Homo sapiens: one gene and its partner. The protein of the gene in region 1 purifies or fractionates together with the protein of each later gene. This does not show direct contact. Each region holds a gene or a part of one and is shown on either strand. Other genes may lie near its edges.

Region 1 (3,249 bases):
TTATTAATTTATTTGTTTATTTATTTTGAGACCGAGTCTTGCTCTTGTCACCCAGGCTGGAGTACAATGGCATGATCCCTGGCTCACTGCAACCTCCGCCTCCTGGGTTCAAGCGATTCTTCTGCCTCAGCCTCCTGAGTAGCTGAGTTTACAGATGCCCACCACCACACCCTGCTAATTTTTGTATTTTTAGTAGAGACGGGGTTTTGCCATGTTGGCCAGGCTGGTCTCGAACTCCTAACCGCAGGTGATCCATCCGCTTCGGCCTCCCAAAGTGCTGAAATTACAGGCTTGAGCCACCGCACCTGGCCAATTATTTTTTAAAGGGGGAAAATTTTATCTCCAAAGCTTGTAAATGCTTTGCTCAGGAAAACTAAACACAAACTCTTTCAAAACTGTCTTTCACATACCAGCCCACTGAATGTTTGAAGACCTTTGTATGTATTTTCTCCCCTGAAATAAAGCTCTTACCCAAGTTCTTCCAGAAAACGAGGGATCACTTTAGGCAGTGGTGATGGCCAAAGTGACCATGAGAACTTGGTTTCTGCACATCCCCACCTAGTCTGCCAGCAGGAACAATCCCGGATCCCCATCCAGCCCTCCCCACAGGGCCAAAACAGAGACAGGCAAGGAACCAGAGAGTTGTGAGTTTATTAAGGGAGATCTAGTGCTTATCCTAGAATCAGCCCTTGCTGCCTATGATCTTCTTGATCCAGTCCAGGTAGCGGCAGATGTTGGTATAGACGCCAGGTTTGTCGGACCTCCCACAGGGGTCTGAGCCCCAGGATGTGATGCCCTGGAGTGCACCATCACACACCAGGGGGCCTCCAGAATCGCCCTAGACAGGGAGAATGAGAACAGCCTTGCATCTGAGATGTCCACAACGTCCCTTTTCCTGCTGTCCCAGCGTTTTACCAGTTCTTTGGCATGATTGGTCCCCTGTAGCCAATGGGGGTAAAAGCATTGTCCCCTGAGACCAGTCAGGACAGGGCTTGGGGCTTCCATGTACAGACAGACATGGTGTCTAAGGGTAGTGGTCAAAACACTGACAGAAGAGGGGAAAGAATGAAATCCCAGACAGGCTTGGTGGCTCACACCTGCAATCCCGGCACTTTGGGAGGCCGAGGCGGTAGATCACTTGAAGTCAGGCGTTCCAGACCAGCCTGGCCAACATGGTGAATCCCTGTCTCTACTAAAAATACAAAAACTAGCTGGGTGTGGTGGTGCACACCTGTAATCACAGCTACTCGGGAGGCTGAGGTGGGAGAATTGCTTGAACTGGGAGGCAGAGGCTGCAGTGAGCCAAGATTGTGCCACTGCATTCCAGCTTGGGGGACAGAGCGAGACCCTGTCTCAAAAAAAAAAAAAAAAGAGTTCTCGAGGGTCCAATCCAGGGAGAAGACAGTAGGGATTACTTGGAGAGGACTGAGCTGAAGTTTCCTCTGTTCCTGGCCAATAGTGAAGGCATCATTGATTGCAGTTGCCAAACATAGGAGAAAGGATCAAGATTCTTATGGACACACACACACACACACACACACACACACACACACACACACACACCATATCCCCAAGAGACCATGGCTGAAATATTTGTGGAAGAGACCACTATCTCTACAGAACAATCCAGAGACTGGCTTTCATGGCAGTATCGCTGATGGAAACGACTCCATTTTTGGCCAATGGGGAAGAAAGCATTGTATTTAGGGACCAGTCATTGGCAAAGGTGGTGGGGCTTCCAGGAAGTGGACAAAGCCAGGGGAAAGTGCTAGGAACAACGAAGTTGCAGTTAGAAGAGAGAGTTATATCTATGACAAATCCCAAGAGAAAGGGATTGGAGCTCATTGAGGAAGCACTGAAGTCAATGGCACCATTTACTCCAGCCAACTGGGAAGACACCATTGTCTCCCAAGGAACCAATCACAGGAGAAGGGAACCAGCCTTGGGATTCTAGCCCGGTCTCAAAGAAAAGTGGCTGACCACCGGGCCGGTGGTAAAGTCGGCACAAATTCCACGATGTAATGCTGGGAACCAGAGAGCAGGCAACTCGTCTAAACTCTAGCCTCAGACTCTCTCCTTGCTGGACATCTACCCCACCCTCTATAGCCCCCAACTCTGCATCCCATCCTGTAGTTAAGCGTTCGAAAGAAAACAGCAGCAGCAATTCAATGCTCCTAATCCCTATGCAGTGTGACTTTCAGAGAGAGAGTTTGGCTTCTCTGAACCTGGCTCCCAATCCGTAGAGATAGGGGTGAACACTCCGGGTGCCAAGTCTTTGGGGTCACTCCCTTACCACCCCCACCCCCATCCAAGCCTTGAACCTCGAGAGGGCAATGAGGGATGTGTGAGGAGAAGGATTTCAGAAATTGCTCACCTGGCACGTGTCAGCCCCTTTGCTGCTGCCTGCACAGACCATGCCATCTGTGATCTGCCCCGGGTAAGCATCCTCACACTTCTTCTGGGGAAAGATTTTTACTTCTGCACAGTTGAGAGTGTCAGGAAAATTCTCTGAGGGGGAAGAGGTTGTAAGGTTCCCTGAGAGAGCAGCCCTTTGCCTCCATCCCTGTCTGGATCTAACCCCCTTTCTTTCCAGGATGTAATGGGGGAGTTTTCCAGCTGCATGGGGGAATTTTCTGACACTGTGCACAGGGGACATCACTTCTCACCACATTAAACGAAGCTGTACTTGTTGCTATTGGGCTTTCTCCATCTAGAGAGGGGCCCTTGGATCTCACGTGTTTTTTCTTACCCTGAGCCATTTTCAAATCAAGGGGCTGGGGGTTACTTGGAGGTGCCCCTTTATGATACCTCTGACCCTCTCTTTCCAGTCTTCCTGCCCTCAGACAACCGGGTCCTCAATCTGTGCTAAATCCTGCTCCTTCCAAGTGTCACCTCCTCCTGGAAGCCTTCCCTGACCACTCGAATTAAAAAATACCATCCCTCCATTACTCCCTATCCTTTTACGCTCCACAATATTTCCTTACAGCACTTTGCCTAATGTTTTATTTTATGTGTATTTGTTTATTGTCTATTTCTCCCACCTAGCTTGCAACTCCATAACGACAAGGACTTTGTACAGTTTGCTCATGGCTGTATATCCAGCGCCTGCAACAGCACCTCAGGCATACTAGGTGCTCAGTAAATAAGAGTTGAATTAATGATTGAAGGTGGAATTGATCTTTTTTATTAACCTCTTTTGAGGAATAGACTTCTCCAAAGCCTCTTTGAGGGGGAAAAACTTCCATCTGG
Region 2 (3,652 bases), about 15 Mb from region 1:
CACTGAGGTCCAGAACCAGCCGGAGCCCAAGGCAGGGCCTGGGGCAGGCGAGCAGCCCAGCGCAGAGCCCCCCACCTCCAGGCTCCCCGGCCCACGGGCACCCACCAATCTGGAAGTAGGAGTAGGCAGCCAGGGGCTCGTTGACCAATCTGTCACGCTTTGGGTTGCGTGGACGCAGGTGCATGATGTCACTCTCGGCCTTTTCATATGCCAGGGACACAGATGGGAACTGGCCAGGAGTGGAAGGAACTGGGACTGAGGGTTTGGCTGGGCCCTTGTCCCCTCCACTTCGGGTCCCCCTTCCCCCACTTGTGAGCAGGAACAGGACTGAGGTTAGCAGGCAGGACCTGCAGGGACGGCACAGCCACACCAGCCTGGACAGCCTGGGCCCCACTGGCCCCTGGGTGTTGGCATCCTGGTGCCCATCTTCGTAAGAACATCTGCTTTTATCTTCTCCCTCTGTCTCCCTCCCTCTCTTTCTCTGTTCCTCACTCTGTTTCTCTGTCCCTGTCTCCAGTGTAATTCTCTGTGACTGTATCTGCTCTTGTGTATTTCTGTGTCACTCCCTATCTCTGTGTATCTTCAGTCTCTCAGTGTCGCCGTGCCCCTTCATCTGCTTGTGCCTAGAGTGGCAGCAGAGCATACTGACCACGACCACAGGCTGTGGGACCTGTGACTGCTCAAGCTCAAGTCACAGCCGGGCCACTTATTTGCCCAGTGACCTGGGACAATCCACTCTACCTGTCTATGCCTTGATGAGCTCATCAGTAAAGTACGGGTGATAGTAACAAAACTCATCTCATAGTGTGGTTATGAGTACAAAATTAAGGAAATGATGGTGTGTCTGGCCCAGAGAAAGCACTGTGTAAATGTTACCGAATAAATACCTGTCAACACAGCTGCGCCTCTGGCTGCATTCGTGACTGTATCTGTGGTTCTTTTCTGTCTGTCTGCCATGGGGTCTATCTGAGGGGGTTTATTTGTCCGTGTCTGTTTAGGGGCACGTGTCTGTGATTCAAGTTTGGCCAGATACCTGTTCTGTTTCCATCTCTGTCTGAGTATCTGTATCTGAGTCATGTGTGTGCATGGGTCGGCCCGGGCCTACCTGAGTGTCCGCCTGTGTGTGCATGGCTGTATGTCCATTTAGGTCTGTTCACCTGCCTGCCACCCATGTGTCCTGCACTGGCTGTCATTGCACACACAGGTCTTGTCTGTCACTCTGTGCCCAAGAGTGTCTGTGGTGGTCTCTGTCCCTCCTGTCCATCTGCAAGCAAGTGTCTCTGGGCACCCTGTGGATGGGTACCCTGGGCTGTGGACTTACAATGTCAGTGCAGAGTTCGATGAAGAGGATGGTGATGCACCCGAGGGGCAGGGGCACGCTGACGGTGATGTAGATGAGGTAGGGTGTCAGCTCTGGGATGTTCTTGGTCAATGTGTAGGCAATAGACTTCTTCAGGTTGTCGAAGATCAGTCGACCTGTGGGGTAGGGTGGGCACCTCAGCCTCCTCACAGCCCTCTCCCTCCTGTGCCCACACTGCCTGCCCTCCCCCTGGCGTGGCTCGGACCCTGCTCCACGCCTGTCACAATGGAGGCAAAGTTGTCATCCAGCAGGATCATGTCAGCTGCATTTTTGGCAGCATCTGAGCCAGCGATGCCCATGGCTACTCCGATGTCTGCCTTCTTCAGAGCTGGGGAGTCATTCACACCATCCCCCGTGACGGCCACAATCGCACCCTGCAGGCAGTGGGTGCAGGTGGTGGGTGGGTGGTCAGTGAGAGGCCGGTCCAAGACCAGCCCCGCCTGTCTGCCCGCCTGCCCACCCTCATCAGCAGGGCTCACCAGCCGCTGGCAGCTCTCCACGATCACCAGCTTCTGCTGGGGGCTGGTGCGCGCAAACACCATCTCGGGGTGGGTGCGCAGGGCCTCGACCAGTTCCGATGGGTCCATGTCCTTCAGCTGCATGCCATTGATCACACAGGCACGGGCATCCCTGGGGAGGAGATGGGAGGACCTCGCTGGGACCTCGGTCTGTGCCAGATGTGGGGAGAACCCCGGGGAGGTCTGGGGGGGCTTACTTGCGATTAACCTGGTCTACGGGCACACGGAGGCGGGCAGCGATGTCCTCCACTGTCTCGCTGCCTTCCGAGATGATGCCCACACTGGCTGCAATGGCCTTGGCGGTGATGGGGTGGTCACCCGTTACCATGATCACCTGTAGGGGGAACCAGTGGATCACTGACCCCTTCAGATCAGCCCAATCTCCCTGTCCTCCCTGGGAGACATCTGCTGATACACGTGTTCATTTACTTGACCAAGCGTGACCACCTCCTACGTGCCTGGGATATAGCAGAGACAAAAGAGACAAAAATCCCTGTCCTTGAGGAGCTCTAGTGAGGGTGACAGAAAATAAAGAAACGAATTATATAGTGTGTTAGAAAGTGGAAAAAAACATATTAAGCTTGGTGAAGGAAACGGTGACTCGATTTTAAGTGTACCCAGGGAAGGGCTTATTGAGAAGGTGATATCTGAGCAGAGACCTGTAAGAGGTGAGAGAGTCAGCCACGTGGAAAGCTGGGAGAAGAGTGCTCCTGGCAGGGAGAACAGCAGGTGCAAAGGCCCTGAGGTGAGGACAGGCCCGAACTGTCGGAGGAACAGCAGGGAGGACACCATAACTGCAGAGGAGTGAACAAGGAAAGAGGGCTAACGAACAAGCTTAGAAAGGTAACAAGGCCCGATGTAACAGGGCCGTAGAGACACGGGAAGGGCTTGGGCATTGCCTGCCTGGCCTTGGCTTTCCCACCCTTGTTTTGTGTTTGGGGAACCACTCCTCTCCCCTACACCATCAGTTGCAGTGAGGTCCCTGGCTAAGATTGGGTAAGTAAGCCCAGACCTGGCCAATCAAGGTCTTCCATCCCCCAGCCCCAGTGACTGGCTCAGGGATAAATGAGTGACCCAATCCAGTGCTACTGCAAAAGAGGCACTCTCTTTTTGTGGGGTGGCTAAGCAGGTGGGAGTTAAGTTTGAGCTGCTGGAGCAGGGGTGTGTGTGTCCCCAAGTGAAGGGAGTGCCTGCAAATAAAGCCAGCAAAGAGAACAGCAGAGCTGAGACATGGAGAAAGGAAAATTCCTAATGACACTGAGCTCCTGGATCTGGCTAGACCTGAAGCTTAATTCCCCAGAATTTTTCAGTATCATAAACCAATGCATTTTGGTTCAAGCCAGTTTCAGGTGGGTTTGTCATGGGGTTCTTCAACCCAAATCCTGCTGCCATCCTCTGTCCTCACTCCACTTGTTCCTCCCCACAGTGGCATACCCGGATGCCTGCGGTGCGACACTTGAGCACAGCATCAGGGACGGTGGCCCGGGGTGGGTCAATCATGGATACAAGTCCCGCAAAGCAGAGGCCGCTAGATGGAAAGTTCATGGCCTCTACGTCGAAGGCATAGCCAGGCGGGTAGTCCTTCTCATTCAGGTAGAGCTGGCAGAAGCCTGACCGGAAACGGGGAAGTCAGGGAAGAGCCCTGGGCACACCCTTTCTTAGCAGGGCCAGGAAATGGGTAAAATAACCAGGCCCCTTGCACCAAACACCTATGGATGCCTGACCTTGTGCTGACCCCTTCACTCACATTATCTGAATCTACCCTCACAACCAC

The links. Proteins that work in one complex are often made in the same cells at the same time.
Region 2: the proteins of KLK8 (region 1) and ATP4A purify together in Homo sapiens (affinity purification with mass spectrometry; 3 studies listed by BioGRID and IntAct, with this or other methods). This does not show direct contact.

What each region holds. Positions count from the first base shown.
Region 1 is NC_000019.10:50,995,377-50,998,625, forward strand, and holds the end of KLK8 (kallikrein-8 isoform 1 preproprotein), read right to left. Parts: intron 2,509-3,249; coding exon 2,375-2,508; intron 839-2,374; coding exon 683-838; 3' UTR 632-682; downstream 1-631. UniProt on the Homo sapiens protein: Serine protease which is capable of degrading a number of proteins such as casein, fibrinogen, kininogen, fibronectin and collagen type IV. Also cleaves L1CAM in response to increased neural activity.
Region 2 is NC_000019.10:35,553,601-35,557,252, forward strand, and holds part of ATP4A (potassium-transporting ATPase alpha chain 1), read right to left. Parts: intron 3,489-3,652; coding exon 3,313-3,488; intron 2,213-3,312; coding exon 2,076-2,212; intron 1,991-2,075; coding exon 1,840-1,990; intron 1,735-1,839; coding exon 1,566-1,734; intron 1,477-1,565; coding exon 1,322-1,476; intron 230-1,321; coding exon 106-229; intron 1-105. UniProt on the Homo sapiens protein: The catalytic subunit of the gastric H(+)/K(+) ATPase pump which transports H(+) ions in exchange for K(+) ions across the apical membrane of parietal cells.